3 linked regions of the Homo sapiens genome follow. The protein of the gene in region 3 interacts with the protein of the main gene of each other region in a biochemical or structural test. Each region holds a gene or a part of one and is shown on either strand. Other genes may lie near its edges.

What was found. Proteins that work in one complex are often made in the same cells at the same time.
Region 1: the proteins of ALK (region 3) and ZC3HC1 form a complex in vitro, tested with the Homo sapiens proteins (one study listed by BioGRID).
Region 2: the proteins of ALK (region 3) and ALKAL1 form a complex in vitro, tested with the Homo sapiens proteins (one study listed by IntAct).

What each region holds. Positions count from the first base shown.
Region 1 is NC_000007.14:130,017,779-130,020,401, forward strand, and holds the end of ZC3HC1 (zinc finger C3HC-type protein 1), read right to left. Parts: intron 955-2,623; coding exon 886-954; 3' UTR 514-885; downstream 1-513. UniProt on the Homo sapiens protein: Required for proper positioning of a substantial amount of TPR at the nuclear basket (NB) through interaction with TPR.
Region 2 is NC_000008.11:52,541,418-52,548,457, forward strand, and holds part of ALKAL1 (ALK and LTK ligand 1 precursor), read right to left. Parts: intron 1,029-7,040; coding exon 975-1,028; intron 1-974. UniProt on the Homo sapiens protein: Cytokine that acts as a physiological ligand for receptor tyrosine kinase LTK, leading to its activation. Monomeric ALKAL1 binds to LTK, leading to LTK homodimerization and activation.
Region 3 is NC_000002.12:29,225,584-29,232,623, forward strand, and holds part of ALK (ALK tyrosine kinase receptor isoform 1 precursor), read right to left. Parts: intron 6,866-7,040; coding exon 6,721-6,865; intron 3,484-6,720; coding exon 3,301-3,483; intron 2,090-3,300; coding exon 1,991-2,089; intron 1,492-1,990; coding exon 1,339-1,491; intron 1-1,338. UniProt on the Homo sapiens protein: Neuronal receptor tyrosine kinase that is essentially and transiently expressed in specific regions of the central and peripheral nervous systems and plays an important role in the genesis and differentiation of the nervous system.

The DNA.
Region 1 (2,623 bases), on a different chromosome or scaffold from region 3:
TTTCTTTAAAATACTTCAGTACAAAAGTATAAAACAAAACAATCTCAGTGACGAAAAACATGGCATATCAGAGAATAATCACTTTCTAGCCTTTGCTAGGTCATGGTTACTTTATCAGTGGGCAGTTCAGGGTCCACCTTCTCTACCACAAAAACTGATGATCCCCCAAAAGCAACGAGTCTTGGGGAAGCCCAACTGGGGGACTCATGCATTCAATGGCACATGGAGAGGGGTCTCTTCTGAAGTGCCTTCCTCCCCATTACATTGTTTTATTCTGTTATTATCAAAGCAAGGAGAAAATTATCAGTTGACCATTCACTATAACACACCAGGAAATTTCCTGGTGGCATAATGAAAATCATCTTGCTTTTGGTTTAGGAAAGATTATACCTCCTTGACTGGAATCACAAATTTTAGGCTTTGCAGCCAATCTGAAAATCAAAAGTTGAATGTTCCACTGAAGTTTCTCCGGCCCACAGGGCAAGGGGGAAAACAGTTCTCCAACAATGAGAATCTTAGCAAATATTTTATTAATACACACTGTCATAGTCCTAGGATAGAAGAGTCCTCAGAACACTGCTCCACATTGAAGATGCTGAAATGGGTGGTCAGGTCCTTAGTCTTCCTTCTAGTCTGTTAATCCCACACTCCTTTAACAGAACCATGCTTGCTGCCCTTACCCTGTCCACATCCCTGAAAGGAAACGGGTCTCTCTCAGCCAGATGCAGATAGTTGACACTCACTGCCTTTGCTATGGCAGGGGGCTCCTTATGATTAACCCAGAACAGGAAAAACTTAGTGTCAGCTGACCGAAAGGAACTCAGCCTTAATTTTTCAAAAAGTCACTCTCATTCCAGCTATCTCCAGGAAGGCGCTGGAGTATCTTCAGCATGAGCACAGAGATTCCCACTGCCGAAATATTCGGAATACTTTCCTTGATTTCTCAGAGAGACTCTGTAGGTAGAAAAGCTTATTATTAGTGATTACGTTCTTTTATAGAGACAAAGGATAGATCATTTGTCCCACAATGATCTGGATATGTCTAGGACTAAGTAAAAATTCATTTTGTAGTATGCTATACATAATGTATACCTAAAGTCAGACTAAAGATCGAGGGGCCAACGTTCTACTGTCAGACTCCTGTTAACACACTCTGAGCCTCTAAGACACGGCTCATATCCTCCCTTCAGGCATCTGTATCTGTCCTCATCTTTGTACTTGAGGATGACACTTCTGACTTGCCGTTAGTACAGCACATGTTTTGCACTGGTTTTTCTTTTTTTTTTTTTTTTTGAGACGGAGTCTCACTCTGTCACCCAGGCTGGAGTGCAGTGGCGCAATCTCGGCTCACTGCAAGCTCTGCCTCCCGGGTTCACGCCATTCTCCTGCCTCACCCAGTAGCTGGGACTACAGGCACCCGCCACCACTCCTGGCTAATTTTTTGTATTTTTAGTAGAGATGGGGGTCTCACCGTGTTAGCCAGGATGGTCTTGATCTCCTGACCTCGTGATCCGCCTGCCTCGGCCTCCCAAAGTGCTGGGATTACAGGCGTGAGCCACCACGCCCGGCCTGCACTGGTTTTTCATTCATGATGCTGAATTGGCCCTAGTTCATTATTTATTGTGAATAAGTACTTATACTTAATGTGATGCCTAGCTGAGGTTAACAGTATAAACCAAGGACAACTAATAAAAACAGAGTTGAATGACCCCTATGAGTTTAAGCTCTGGCCTTGGTCTTCACCGCTTTTATGTTTTAGCCAGCAGTGCTAATAATAGGAAGAATCGCAGTGCCATCTGATCATGCCAATGAAGTACTCTGAGATTCTGAGAAATGGTGGTAAAGGGAGACAAAGTAATTCATTAGGAGACAAAAGCTCTTGGTGAATCAGAACACTTGGTTCTGTCTGCCTTTGAGAGTCACAATGAAGAGCAAGTATTCCACGCAGAAAGGGTCTCAGTGAGAGTACAAAGAATGTCTAGCAAGATGATCCACAGTTACCTCCAGTTTCTCATATGACGCTTTCACAGGTTTTTTTTTTTTTTTTTTTTTTTTTTGAGACAGGTCTCGCTCTGTCGCCAGGCTGGAGTGCTGTGGTGCCATTTCAGCTCACTGCAACCTCTTGACTCCCTGGTTCAAGCGATTCTCCTGCCTCAGCCTCCTGAGTAGCTGGGATTACAGGCATATGCCACCACGCCCAGCTAATTTTTGTATTTTTAGTAGAGATGGAGTTTCACCATGTTGGCCAGGATGGTCTTGATCTCCTGACCTCATGATCTGCCTGCCTCGGCCTCCCAAAGTGCTGGGATTACAGGCGTGAGCCACTGCGCCCGGCCCACTTTCACAGTTTTTTAAAAATCTATCCTCTTTGAGGATGTTTCAATAAGTTCCAGGAGGAAAAAGTTTGAACTCTTACTAATGACTGAGGGAAATTTAGTTAATAGAGTGACAAAGTTGAAAGAAACCTGAGTTGAAAAAATAGTATACACTTTTTTCTTTTTTTTTTTTTTTTGAAAGGGAGTCTCACTCTGTTGCCCACGCTGGAGTGTAGTAGTGCGATCTCGGCTCACTGCAACCTCCACCTCCCAATTCTCCTGCCTCAGCCTCTGGAGTACTGGGATTA
Region 2 (7,040 bases), on a different chromosome or scaffold from region 3:
ATGATCTCACCACTGAACTCCAGCCTGAGTGATGGAGCCAGACCCTGTCTCAAAAATAAAAAATTTTTGGCCGGGCGTGGTGGCTCACACTTGTAATCCCAGCACTTTGGGAAGCCAAAGCAGGTGGATCACTTAAGGCCAGGAGTTTGAGACCAGCCTGGCGAATGTGGTGAAACCCCATCTCTACTAAAAATACAAAAGATTAGCCAGGTGTGGTGGCACATGCCTGTAATCCCAGCTATTTGGGAGGCTGAGGCAGGAGAATAGCTTGAACTCGGCAGTGAGCCGAGATCGTGCCACCGCGCTCCAGCCTGGGCAACAAGAGCGAAACTCTGTCTCAGAAAAAAATAATAATAATAAATAAATATATTTTTAAAAGATGTAGCATATGAAAGTCTGTCCCTCCCTGTTCAAAAAATTTATATTGCCCCCTCCCTCCCTACCCCCACCTGGTTGGGGAACATAGTCTGAATTCCCTAGCATGCCACTTAAGATTATCCACAACATGACTCCAACCTACCTTTCCAGCCACATATTTGACCAGGGCCAAATACGTCCCTACCTAAGCCCACTCACAGTCTGTGCACACCTGTCCTTGCCTAAACCACACCCGGTGTCTTCATGGCTTACTCAATGCACTCCTTCTGAACAGAAGGTCTCCCTCACCACGGGAAAGCCTTATTCATCCCTTAAAGCCCACCTTAAATACTGTGTCTACTACAAGCCGTTCTTGGTAGTTCTTGGCCACTTTATTCACTTCCTGTGTATCCTTAAAAAGTGGCTCATACTTCTATTACTTATTAAGGGCTGGTTTACATTACAGTTAACACAAGTTAGTAGCATCCGTCCATCTCCCCAACTGGACCATGAGTCCCCTACAGACATTTATTTTCATATCCCTAGTGCCTGACATAGTATTCTGCACACAGTCTTTTTATTTAGTTAATGGAATCACTGATACATTTTGTACTTACCTGTGAAATGCTTTATGAATTTGTCTTTTAAGTTAGAGTCTCTTGGGAATATTTCTGAAAAGAAAAAAAAAACCATCAGAATTTATTGAATGCATTTCTCCCATTTAAAAATATCCTTAATATGCTAATTACTTAATAAGGCACTAAACACATGGATTTGTGACAGTTTATTTAGCTGATCCCAAACTGGTTTCTCCAGCCCTGACCATTTCCTGGGCTCCAAAACTGCAGTACAACTCACTGCTTGCTCTACGGCATGAAGGGTACCTTACAGATCTCTCAAAAGTGCACAGCCGCAATGGAAGGTCTCCTTTTCCTCTGCCCAGACCTGTTTCTCCCGTGTTCCTCAGTCCACTGAAGACTGACTGAAGTGGCATCACTCTTGATCAGGCCCCAGCTCAAGAAGTTATGCTTGACTTCCTTTTTCCCTCACCCCTACACCCAAACCATGAGTTAGTTTTATGTATTTCACCTTCAACAAATTATTCCAGACCCACTCACTTCTTTCTCCTTCCCTCAACGAGTCTGGCCCAAGCCATCGTCCTTTTGTGACCATGCCTTGGCAGTGGCCTCCTAACCCCTCTTCTCCTCCCCATAATCTTCTTTCTCCCCAGTAGCCAGAACAAACAAACAGAAATATACTATAAGTCATGATCTCTCCCACTTGGAAGGTTTTGCACTTAATACATAATAAAATTTAAAAATAAAATTGTATCTCAGGCTTTACCTTCTACTCACTAAAACTACACCATCCAGAAAATGCAATTTATACAAACAATCGGGAGCATGTGCAACTCTTTCAAAGGAAGAGAAAACTTAAACTTTAGTAAAATAGTTGAGCCTCAAGGTTTGTTGGTAGGTATACATTTAAACTTACAACATTTTAAGAATATAATGGGGAAGTGAAGGTTTGTCATCCCCCTCTAGGAGAGTCTGAGCCATCACGGTGATGAGTGTGACTTCGCCAGCACAAGGCAGTGGTGACTGAGGCTTGGTAAATGCAGATGCAGGGATTCTAACTGTTCCTTACATGCCATGAGCTCCTGAGGGACGTGGGAACACTTCCCTGTGCAGGGAGCTCCCCAGTTCAGGGCAGCCTTATGTGAGTTCAGGGCCTGGTTCAGGGCGTGATTGTGTGGGTGCGCAGGAATGCAGAGAGATCGGAGCTCCCCCACCATTTGACAATGAACACCTGCACTTTACAAACAATTAAAACTAATCCTGAAAAACAAAGCAGCAGTAAAATGAAAGTACTTCATATAAACCTTTCCTCTTCTCTTCAATAATGCTCCAGCCCGAACATAGGTCTTTTCCCCTGTACTTCTCAGAAACCAAAAACAACAAATTGGCTTCTGTGGTGTCAATATTTGGGCCAGGTAGTTACACTGGTGCTTTCTGAAAAATGAATGAGCTGAGTACAGCAGAAGCACCTACTGTGGTTAAGGCATGCTCAAAGACTTTATAAATAATTCTATTTCCAAAAGCATTTTAGAGTATAATTTTAATCTCTAGACCCTGTGACAATGATGACACTCAGGTGTGTAGAAAATTACATATTTTAAGTAAATTACCCTCCTCATCTCCACCCCATAGCACATTTTATAACTTCTATCAAAGCAGATGTCACATTCTGGTTAGCATGATGGGGCACCGTGTGTGTCTGTCTTCCCCACAATTATGGCTTCCTGAGGAAAGGGATGCGGTCTTGTCCCCCTGTACAACCCGGCTTTGCTGGCAGAGGCACCTGGCACATGTTCAAGGAATAGGAAGCCAAGAGGGTTGCTACCGCTCAAATGGAAACATCAGTGCCTCCTTGTACTCAGTACAGCCCACCAAGAAAACCAGAATTTCAATACACTTGAATTTTAACTTCAAAACACAAACATCACATAGGAATACAAGAATGTACAACAGATTGATTTAGCTGAAACAGAAAAGTGGTGTTTAAGTTGACACCCGAAGTAACAAGCCAGAGATAAGAAGGTAAGAAGAGATGGGAATGGGGAAGACTGCAGCGTGTTCAAGTATTGGGGGAAATGTCCAGAGCTGCTGAAGAAGAGGTGGGTGAGACAAGGCTGCAGGTGCAGGTAGGCTTTAGAGTTAAGTCGTACACAAACTTTGTGCTTAATTCTGTGGGTGATGAGAAGTCAAAAGGCTTTAGGCAAAGGAATGGTACGGTTAAGCTATTTTCAAAAGACCGTTGAGGGAGGGAGGGAATGGGGAGAATTGGCCAAAGGATACAAAGCTGCAGATGGGTAGGATGAGCAAGTCTAGAGGTCTAATGCATGGCAGAAGGACTGCAGGGAATAATGATGTGTTGTATATGGGATAATGACTAAGAGAGCAGAGTTCAGGAGTTCTCACCACCAAAAAAAAAGGGCAACTGTGAGATGATGGATATGATTTGCTTGACCACAGTAACCACTGCACTCTGTATACATATATCAAAAATTATGCTGCATACTCTAAAGACATACAATAAAAATAAACAAAATTATATACACCATTCAAACATTTTTTAATAAATAAATTTTGTTTTTTTGAGACAGGGTCTTGCTCTGTTGCCCAGGCTGGGGTGCAATGGTGTGATCACAGCTCACTGAAGCCTCCACCACCTGGGCTCAAGCGATCCTCCCACCTCAGCCTCCCAAAGTGTTGGAATTAGAGGCACGAGCCACCAAACCCAGCATAAACTATTTTTAATAATAAAAAACAATTATGCCTAAGTATTGTGAAAGGAAAATAAATCTCAGGACCCCAAAATCACTAAGCCAAGGGAAAAGTCAAGCTGGGAACTATGTTAGGCAAACCTGCCTCCCATTAATTCCTAAATAAGATAGTTACAAAGATAAAAAGCTACATACATCCCTCACGATTTGCCCACAAGAAAATTCTTTGTGGATGGAGGACAGACAGAACTCAAAGTCATCCCTCTGAGGCTCACCTGACACAAATGCATATGATTGCTTCCTCTGCCCTATTGTTTATGTAAAAATGCAGATTCACTGAGCCACACTAAATTGTGTACTCAGTGGAAGGCTGATCAAAGACTCAAAAGAATGCAAACTTTTGTCTCTTATCTACTTTTGACCTGGAACCCCCCCCACACCCACCTCCCTCCCTGCACACACCCCTTTCCCCTCAAACCCGTTTCCCCTCCCCCATCCCCCTTCAACTTGTCTTACCTTACTGAACCCAACCAATGTACATCTTACACATATTGATTGATGTCTCATGTCTCCCTAAAATGTATAAAAGCCAGCTATACCCCAATCACCTTAAGCACATGTCAGCAGGACCACCTGAGGCTGTGTCATGGGTGCATCCTTAACCTTGACAAAATAAACTTTCTAAATTGATTGAGACCTGTCTCAGATACTTTTTGGTTTACAGTACAGAGGGCAAATAATAGATGCAGACAGATAAGTTAAAAGGTTTACAGTCATGTGCTGTTTAATGATGGAAATATGTTCTGAGAAATGCATCGTTAGGAGATTCCTCCATTGTGGGAGCATCATAGAGTGCATTTACATAAACCTTGGTGGTAGAGTCTCCTGCACACTCAGCTATATGGTATAGCCTATTGCTCCTAGGCTACAAAACCTGTTGTGCTGAATACTGTAGGTAGCTGTAACACCATGGTGAGTATTTGTGAATCTAAACATATCTATACATAGAAAAGGAATAGTAAAAATACAGTATTATAATCTTATAGGACCACCATGGTATATGCAGTCTGTAGATGACAGAAACGTCCTTTTGTGGCACGTGACTGTAACTGTATTGACTAGCACTGGCCTATGCAGGGGCTAGCAAACAACAGCTCCTGAGGCAGATCCAGCTTGCTCCTGTGTTTGTGAATAAAGCTCTGCTGCAACATGCCCACATCCATTTGTTTAGGGGTCGCCAGTGGCTGCTTTTTCACTACAAGGGCAGAACTGAGTAGTTGTTGCACAGATACTATGGCTCACTGTAGAAAGCAGAAAAGTTCCTCATTAAAGTTCGTCTTGCTTTAAAAATAAAATAATAGACGCTAGGAATAATAGCTCCTTACTCCAAAGCCTCCTATCAACTATTAGTTCTCATACTTTAGCCCAGTTAGTTGCTTTGGCTTACTCAGGCATGTCTGGACAGGCCCAGGCAAGTCTTAGCTCATAGCTTATGCCCCTTCCTTATTTGGAAATGTTATTGCTTCCTTAAACCTTTCATAAGCAACTTCCTTTTCTTCTTGGTTCTCCCTTGCACTTACCTATTTAGGGAAATTTTAGGTTATTAGCAAATCGGGTATCAGTTTAAGACTGTGAGGTCCAGCTCCAGCCAATGGATGCAGGACACAGCAGTAAGGACAAACCAAATGCGTAAGGGATAAATATGTCTGCTTTTCCTTTGTTCAGGTGTATTGTTGCCATTGTTCCATCTGTGAGGGGCACCCTTTCTGCAGAAAGTAAAGATTGCCTTGCTGAGAGATCCTTTGTCTCTGTGCTGACTTTTCTTTGCACACTGATTATCTGCCCAAAATATTGACTATGTGGCCCTTTCTAAAGAAAGTTTGCCAATGCCTGCCCTGCAGCACACTCCTATTTGCAGTAAAAACAAATTAAAATGGTGGGAGGCGCCAGGGAGCAGAATTCTGGGGTGGAGAGAAGAGATATTTTTCCATGCACACCCTTTTTATTACTTTTAACTTTTTTGAATATAAATCTGTATTAATTTTTCAATAAAAAACTGATTGAAAATGAATTTGCATTTAGTGACTAGATGCACGCAGTAGTTTTTGATCCACAAAATATTAAATAAACAACTGAATATAAGAAAATTACCCCAGGCCGGGCATGGTGGCTCACGCCCATAATTCCAACACTTTGGGAGGCTGAGGCAGGTGGATCACCTGAGGTCAGGAGTTCGAGACCAGCCTGACCAACATGGCGAAACCCCATCTCCATTAAAAATACAAAAAAATTAGCCTAGCGTGGTAGCGTGTGCCAGAAATCCCAGCTACTCGGAAGGCTGAGGGAGGAGAATCAATTGAACCTGTGAGGTGGAGGTTGTAGTGAGCCAAGATCGCACCACTGCACTCCAGCCTGGGTGACAGAGCAAGATTCCATCTCAAAATAAATAAATAAATAAATATAAATAACTAAGTAAAAAGAAAACTCCCCGCAAACAATGAAACTAGTTGATTTCTCTCTGATGGAAAATGTTCTAAGAGAGCAGCATCTACAATGAGATAAATGGGAGCCACACATGTAATTCTAAATGTTTAGTAGCCACATTCAAAAAGTAAAAAGAAATGTGTGAATTAATTTAATAATTTGGCCAGTCACAGCGGCTCACGCCTGTCATCCCAGCACTTTGGGAGGATGAGGCTGGAGGATCGCTTGGGCCCAGGAGTTTGAGACCAGCCCAGGCAACATAGTGAGACCTCATTTCTAAAATTAAAATTAAAATTAATTTATTTTAACTAAGTATAGCCAAAGTGTTACCATTTCAACTTGTTTTCAACAATATTAATTACTAATGAGATACTTTACTTTTTTGCACTAAGTTTTCAAAATTCAGGGTGTATTTTGCACATTCAGCACATCTCAGTTTGAACCAGCCACATGTCAAGTGCTCAGTAGCCTCATGGCTTGTGGATGTGGTGTTGGACGGCATAAGTCTGAAATGTAACTTTACGCCGGGTGCAGTGGCTTATGCCTGTAATCTCGGCACTTTGGGAGGCCGAGGCCGGTGGATCGCCTGAGGTCAGGAGTTCAAGACCAGCCTGGTCAACATGGTGAAACTCTGTGTCTACTAAAAATACAAAAACATTAGCCGGGCATGGTGGCACACACCTGTAATCCCAGCTACTCAGGAGGCTGAGGCAGGGGAATCACGTGAACCTAGGAGGCAGAGGTTACAGTGAGCTGAGATCGTGCACTCCAGCCTGGGCGACAAGAGCGAGACTCCGTCTCAAAAGAAAAAAAAAAAAGAAGAAGAAATAAAATAAAATGTAAGCTTCAAATGACAACTAGATATGAGGAAGAAGTGCTAGTGTTCTATAGCACTGTAAGATGACTACAGTAA
Region 3 (7,040 bases):
TGGGGTATTGACAACCACACCAGGTCTCCTTTGAGTTGGTCCCAAGTCAGAAATAACCTCCCCCACTGAGACAAAAACTACTTGCTCCTTCCCATCGCTGGAGACCTTGTCACACTTTTCTTTTCAGGGGACCATGAGCAGGACCAGACTCATCCCGATTTGACAGGCTTTTAGCAGTAGCTTTTGGGTGAAGGGAAATTTAACAGGGATGAATATCAGTGGCGGGATGTTGGTTTGAAACATGAGCTGCACAACTATGGGGTGAGGATGGAAGGTGAAACGAAAGTGGATCTGGAAGAGATGTGGGGGCCGCAGGTGACCAAACAACAGGGTGCGCTGTAAGTAACACCCTCTGAGGCTAAGTTACTTCCTTGTGGCCCTGAGGCACTGGGCTCACAGTGGGGAGGGGTCCTGTGCCCTCTGCTGGCCAGACCACACGGAGGTATCGTGCTTGGTACTGGACACTACATTTCAAAAGGGACATCGATAGTGGAACACATGCAGAAGAGGGACACTGGTGGGGCGGGGGAAGAGACACAAAACTGCATCTTGTATGAACTGCTGCAAACAAATGGGTTATTTAGTCTGAAGAAGAGTTAAAGGAGGAGGATGGGGCCAGGTGCGGTGGCTCACACCTGTAATCCCAGCACTTTGGGAGGCCGAGGCGGGTGAATCACCTGAGGTCAGGAGTTTGAGACCAGCCTGGCCAAAAGGTGAAACCCTGTCTCTACTGAAAATATGAAAATTAGCCTGGCATGGTGGTGGGCGCCTGTAGTCCCAGCTACTCAGGAGGCTGAGGCAGAAGAATTGTTTGAACCTGGGAAGCGGAGGTTGCAGTGAGCCGAGACCACACCATTGCATTCCAGCCTGGGCAACAACAGTGAAACTCCGCCTCAAAAAAAAAAAAAAAAAAAAAAAAGAGGAGGAGAATGGGAGCACTGTCTTCAAACACTGCACATGCACAGCTGCTGCTGTAAGGAAACCTAGGAGAGGAAGGTTAAGGCAACAGGTCCCCAGCTCTGAAACTGCCCAAGGGAACAGAGAACCTTAGGAGCAGTAAGATCCCTGTCACTGGGCATGTTTAAGTGGAGGCAGGATGGCCCCTTGGTGGGGGTGGTAGAGGGCTTATTCTATAGTAGAGGATTTTTAAGACTCCTTCAGGAGCCATGACCCACCTTTCACACAGTGGTCAGAGCACTCGAGCTGTGGCAGGTAGGGGAGGGACAGAAAGTTTACAAAACCGAATCCAGGGTGTTCTGGAACCCAGAAACCATTTGTGGTCATGGGCCAAATCTCAGGCTATGGGCCCCTCTGCCTCCCCTGGCCCTGCCCCCTTACCAATGCAGGAGACGCCATCCTCAGCCAGCACCGTCCCGTGGTCACAGAAGCAGATGACCTTGTGGCTTTCAGGGTCCATGTGACATTCGTCTACCTCACAGTGACTGCAGTTTAGATAATGCTTAATATTCACTTCCCCGTGGCCTTCCATCACTAGTGACAAGGAGGGAGGGTCAGTCTTGGGCCGAGCCTGCCTCCCCACTCCCAGCCTCAGTACTATGTCTCCAGGTGGTCACTGTGGGTGCTCTGGTGGTCCCTGTTCCTAGGTCCCATAGCCACTGGAAGCACAACTGTGTAGAAGAGTCTTCCTGTGCATATAGAGAGTGCAGCGGAGGCAGCGGGCATGGGTGTCTATGGATGTTTGCTTTTGAGTCAGTGGTGGAGAGAAGCCCACGCACATGATCTTTAGGTTGGCTGGTGCAGGTATTGGGCTATTACTGTTACATTTCCTAGGATTCTGCCTCTGCATTCATATTAAAGCACACATCCTGACTTCTGGAAAATGTGGTGACCTGCGCCATAGGAAGCTTGCCTGCCAGGGACCCATAATTGTGCCTCTGTATCCTGGATACAGGTCAGAGACTCTGAGGTTTTAGCTTGGTGGGAGGACTGACCTAAGCAAGTTTGTTCTGCTGCCTGGCAGAGAAGCTACCTTTTAAAGCTGGGGTGTACAGGATGCCCAGTGGACTGATGAAGGAAACCCCATCTTCCCCATCCATTTCGGGGTCATTGTTTGAGGCTGCATTGCCGCCTGAGTAGCAAACCAGAGCAGAGTTTAACATGGGGGGTGGGTGCCAAAATCTTAACACACACACACGTCAGTGGGGCATGCAGCTCTGGCCAAAGTTAGGGGGTCACTGGGGACCTCAGGGGCAGGGATGCGGGGAGGGAAGGGAGGCTCAGGGCACAGAGGCTGCATGTGGGATTTGGCTCAGTAGATGCTGGGTGTGTGGCTAATTTCCCCTCAGGTCCAGGCCAGCTCCCACTCTGCCGGTGGCCCACTAAGAAGTGGTTAATGTGAGCAAGAGTCCAAAAAGTTCTAGTCTTTCCAGGCTGGGATATGCCCATGGTGCCTCTCCCAGGACTGGTCAGGATGGTAGCACTGAAGAGTTGCTCTTCAGCCCCATTGGGTCAGGGTTGGGGTGTGGCGGGCTGTGCGGATTGCGGGAAATGAGCCCCTGTGCCCTGAGGCTCCCGTCCCTCCTTTCATCTGGGGCTGGGCTATCTTTGGGCTCCCCCCTCGGGCTCCTCCCACCCACCCAGCTTGGAAAAGAAGAGCATGTGGTTAACACAAGCATCTTACACACAGCGTCAATGCAAAACACAGACACGAACACCACAGAGCATGCATGCATTCGTCCTAATCTGTGGGGAGCGGGGAGCCATCGTCTCCCAGCCTCTCAGCTTCAGAAGGCTCTGCTGACTGTGCTCTGAAGCCCAGACGAGGCAGCTGGGGTCAATGGGCAGCTGCTTGCTGAAGGGCTGGGCTAAGCCTGCCTGCAGTTGCCCTCGGGAATAGCTCCCATCAGCAGGCACAGCGGCGCCTTTCAGGAAGCTGGTGGGCTGAGGTAGGGAGCAGGAGTAAGGAGTCCATGAAACCACAAACCAGCCCCTTCAGGAGCTGGCTTGGCCAGGCCATCCAAGGGAGGCTGGGGGAGTCCTTATGGGTGACTCAGAGACTAGTCTGGCAAGCCAAAGCCTCTTTATCATCGACTTTGGGGGACATCAAGAATCACATGGGATCTTGATGCTGTCGCTGAGGAAGCCTGGAGGCAGGGTGCTGGCTCGAAAGCCAGCACCCTGCCTCTGGCTGGTCCAGGCAGGTCGAGAGGGAGGCGTGCAGTCACATCACAGTCCACACTTGGGCAGGCCAGGGGAGGGCAGGGGAGGGCAGGGCAGGGAGGTGAGGAGCCTAGGACTAAGCAGGGAGGGAGTGACACCTTGAACACGAATCATCTTTACCTATATATCCTCCGCCTCCTCCACCTGAGGAGCACCCCCCTCCACCCCCTCCGAAACCCCCTCTTGTCTCCCACCCCCACTTCTTCATGGCCTGGGGGCAGGAATGTCCTCCGGTGGCACCCTCCTGCAAAGATTTTCCGGCCCAGAGCAAGGAAGTGTTATCATTCCAGCCACCTCCACCACCTGCGGGAAGAGATAGGGAACCTGCGTGAGGATGCTGGCAAGGTTCAATTAGCCATGCTGGCCAGAGAAGCAGGATGCAGGACGCCTTGGAGGGCGCCCGCACCAGCTCCAGCTCCCGGGGCCCATCTTCAGTGGGGCCTGGGGGCTTCAGATCCACACTAGGAAAACCAGGAGGCTGCTTGCCCTAGGAGACCTGTTTGGCCACAGCTGAGTACACCCAGATGAGAGCGTGCCTTGTACCCCTGCTTCCTGCCAGTACTCTCTGGCTCAAAAGCAGGGGCTGTGCTTGGTTAAGGATGGGGGGACGTGGGCAGACAGGCAGCATGGCGACTAAACTCGTTCCTCTATCTTCTCTTCATGTCAGCCAAGCCCCGTAGCACTGGACCTTCGTTTCATTAACTGCCTCCCGTCCTAACGAGAAAAGGGACTCACCAGTCTTTGAGCAGCCACATGTCAAAACCTTGCACTAAAGTTCCTTGCAGGAATCCTGGACTAGGCTGACCAGAGAGCCCGTTGCTGTCTGTGAAACCCTGGGGAAGAACGCCCCATTCTGAGCCTGTGTTTCCTCACCTGTGGCTTGGGGATAATAAGACCCACCTGATGGGGTTGATGTTCCGCTCAAAGGAGACAGTGAGTGTACGAAATGCTCCACAAACTGCCAGGGGTGGGGAGCGTCAGGGGCTCGAGAGGCAGAACACACGCGTGCAGACAGCCTCACACCTGGGCTCAGCCTGCTTAGAGGTTCTCCAGGGCCAGGCGCTCAGGAACTGCTCCAAGGTCAGGAGCAGAAGCCCTGGTGGGTGGACGATACCCTGGCAACAAAGGCAGCCTCAGGGCTGTGCTTCCCAATGCCTGGGGCTGCTTTGGGCTCTTACAAAGGAAGCTATCTACAGAGCCGAGGTTGAATGTAGCCACAGGTTGACCACAAGAAATCTCTTCTGCTAACCTTTGAGATTCCAGGATATCCCCTATGCCTACTGTTCCATAGGACATTTGAATAGACATCTACAGTTGTCCCTCAGTATCTGTGGAGGTTCCAGGATCCCTCCATCACACCAAAATAAATGTCCCTTTATATAAAGTGGCATAGTATTTGCACATTCTCCTATAAAAAAATCATCTCTAGATTACATATAATACCCAATACAGGGTAAATCCTATGTAATAGTTATTGTATTATTTAGGGAATAAGTCTGTACATGTTCAGTAAAGACACAATCATCTTTTTTTTTTTTTTTGAGTATTTTTGATCTGTGGTTGGTTGAATCCCACGAACGCAGAACTGATGGATAGGAAAGGGTGGAGGTATTCTAAAAACCCTAAAACCCTTTCTGCTGCAGCAGATGATGCATGCTGGGGACCTGGAAATTGATGGTGGAAGGCAGAAACAGCAGTGTGTGTGTCTGCCGGAACCCTACGGGTGAACCGGCCTGGCAGGGTTTCTGGAAGCACTTGTGGCCCAGATTCTTTGGGACCCAGAGGGACCTGTAGGTGGGATGACTGTCTTGCTAGAAAGAGGAAGCCAGGTTTTGAAAATGAAGCTGAGGTCAGGAACAAGCTTGAATCTAGAATGGGGACAAGCAGAGCTGAGGCGAGGCCATCAGGCAAGCTGGGGGGACTTTGTTAGCCATGAAACCTCCAGGGGTGGGTGTTGAGCTTGGGTTTGTTTCGCTGTCCTCCCTTCTGCTCTCAGGGGAGGGTGTGGGCCTGTCAAGGCTGTTGTCATGTGGCAGAGAGAAGGCCCCTTAGGCGCGTTAGGGGCCAGAAGTTGGCGCTGGTGTTTGTGCACGGCTGTGAGTAAGCGCGTAATAAATAAATCAGAACGAGATGGACGGAGACCATGCGCTGTGCTTTCATCCTGCTCAGCCCCCAGCTGAGGAGGTTTCTGACCCCCATACCCGTTCTGCAGCCTTCGAGCAAATGTGTGGAAAGGAAAATAACCCATATCAAAATCAGAACAACGGTGTTTTAAAAATACGAATTGAGTCTGGCCAGGCGTGGTGGCTCACGCCTGTAATCCCAGCACTTTGGGAGGCCGAGGCAGGTGGGTCACCTGAGGTCAGGAGATTGAGACCAGCCTGACCAACATGGAGAAACCACGTCTCTACTAAAAATACAAAAATTAGCTGGGCGTGGTGGCGTGTGCCTGTAATCCCAGCTACTCGGGAGGCTGAGGCAGGAGAATCGCTTGAACCTGCAAGTCAGAGGTGGCATGAGCCGAGACCGTGCCACTGCACTCCAGCCTGGTGACAGAGCGAGACTCCGTCTCAAAAACAAAAAACAAAAAACAAAAATTGTCTCTATCACTAAACAGCTCGGCCCTGTTGAGAAAAAAAAAGTCATCATGCCTTGGTGAGCCCATTGGCTCTCCTGTAAAACAGGAATGGTATCTGCCTGGAAACCTGCAGGTTGTTTTGACAGCACATGTGCAACAGAGGCAGAGGTGCTTCAGGGTTTCTCGGGTGCTGGGCCTCGGTGCTGCAAACGTCACTGGAGATCCTCAGGGTGGACCCATGACTGTTTCTACTCTTCTATTCTAGCCGTCTCTCAATTGAGAGACAGTTTGCACATTTGTTTTAATTAATCCCAAATCTTAAATGCCTTCTAAGATCCTCCCACAGTCTGATTGTGTGGAAAAGAAAATACAAAAAGGAATTGCATTTTCTGTCTTTAGGGGTGGCTGACTTTAGAGGAATCAGGGAATTGACACTCTCTTCCCTGCCTGTCTCACATTTCTGTGCTTCTGGCTCCCATTAATGAGGGAGGAGAGCTCAGCCGTGGAGAGTCAAGTAAGAGATTTTCCAGCGGGGATACGCTTGGGTCTGGCAGCCCAGGGCCTGGAGGTCTGTACCATGGGGGTCTAGGAGGCCTGACATTGCCCAGATTTTTTTCACCTGCTCATATCCTAACTGGGGGGCCCATCTGCCCCTGGAGGAAGAAGGAATCTCAGGGGGAGGCTCTAACAATTGCAGGGAGGGCCAGCTGGCTGATTGACGGCTGCTCCCTGCCTCACTTTCTCAGTGACCTTCTACAAGTCCAAGCTCCAGGTCAGCAAGATGGCCTGCAGGGCTCCCAGGGTGCTGCCTGCCCTCCCTCCCTGGATATCGGTACCAATATTCAGAGCTCCTAGCATCCCAGGTGCCAGTGACTAAGATGCCCTCAGGCATGCGATGGCATCGGGGCCCAGCTGAAGGCCTGGGAGAGGTTCTGGGAGAGGGCACGCTTGCAGCGCTTTACCTGCGGCTCCGGAATTGCCGTTTAGCCCTAGAACCGAGGAGTTATTCTCCAGTCTCTCTGGGTGGAACGTGTCTGTCTTGGCCCCGTAGGCCCTGCCACCACCTCCGGCTGCAATGATCAGGGGCACCGGCACTCCATCCTTCATCTGACCAGGGGAGACATTCAGACATTGAGAAACCGAGCTGTGCTTCCCCCTGGAGCCCCTAAGCTCTGGTAAATTCAACCTGACTGAGGGTTTGCTGTTTTGGGGTGACCTGGTGACCTCTCAGTGGTCTGAGGTGGTTTGCGGGCTCTGAACCCTTGTTACAATAGCCCATCGG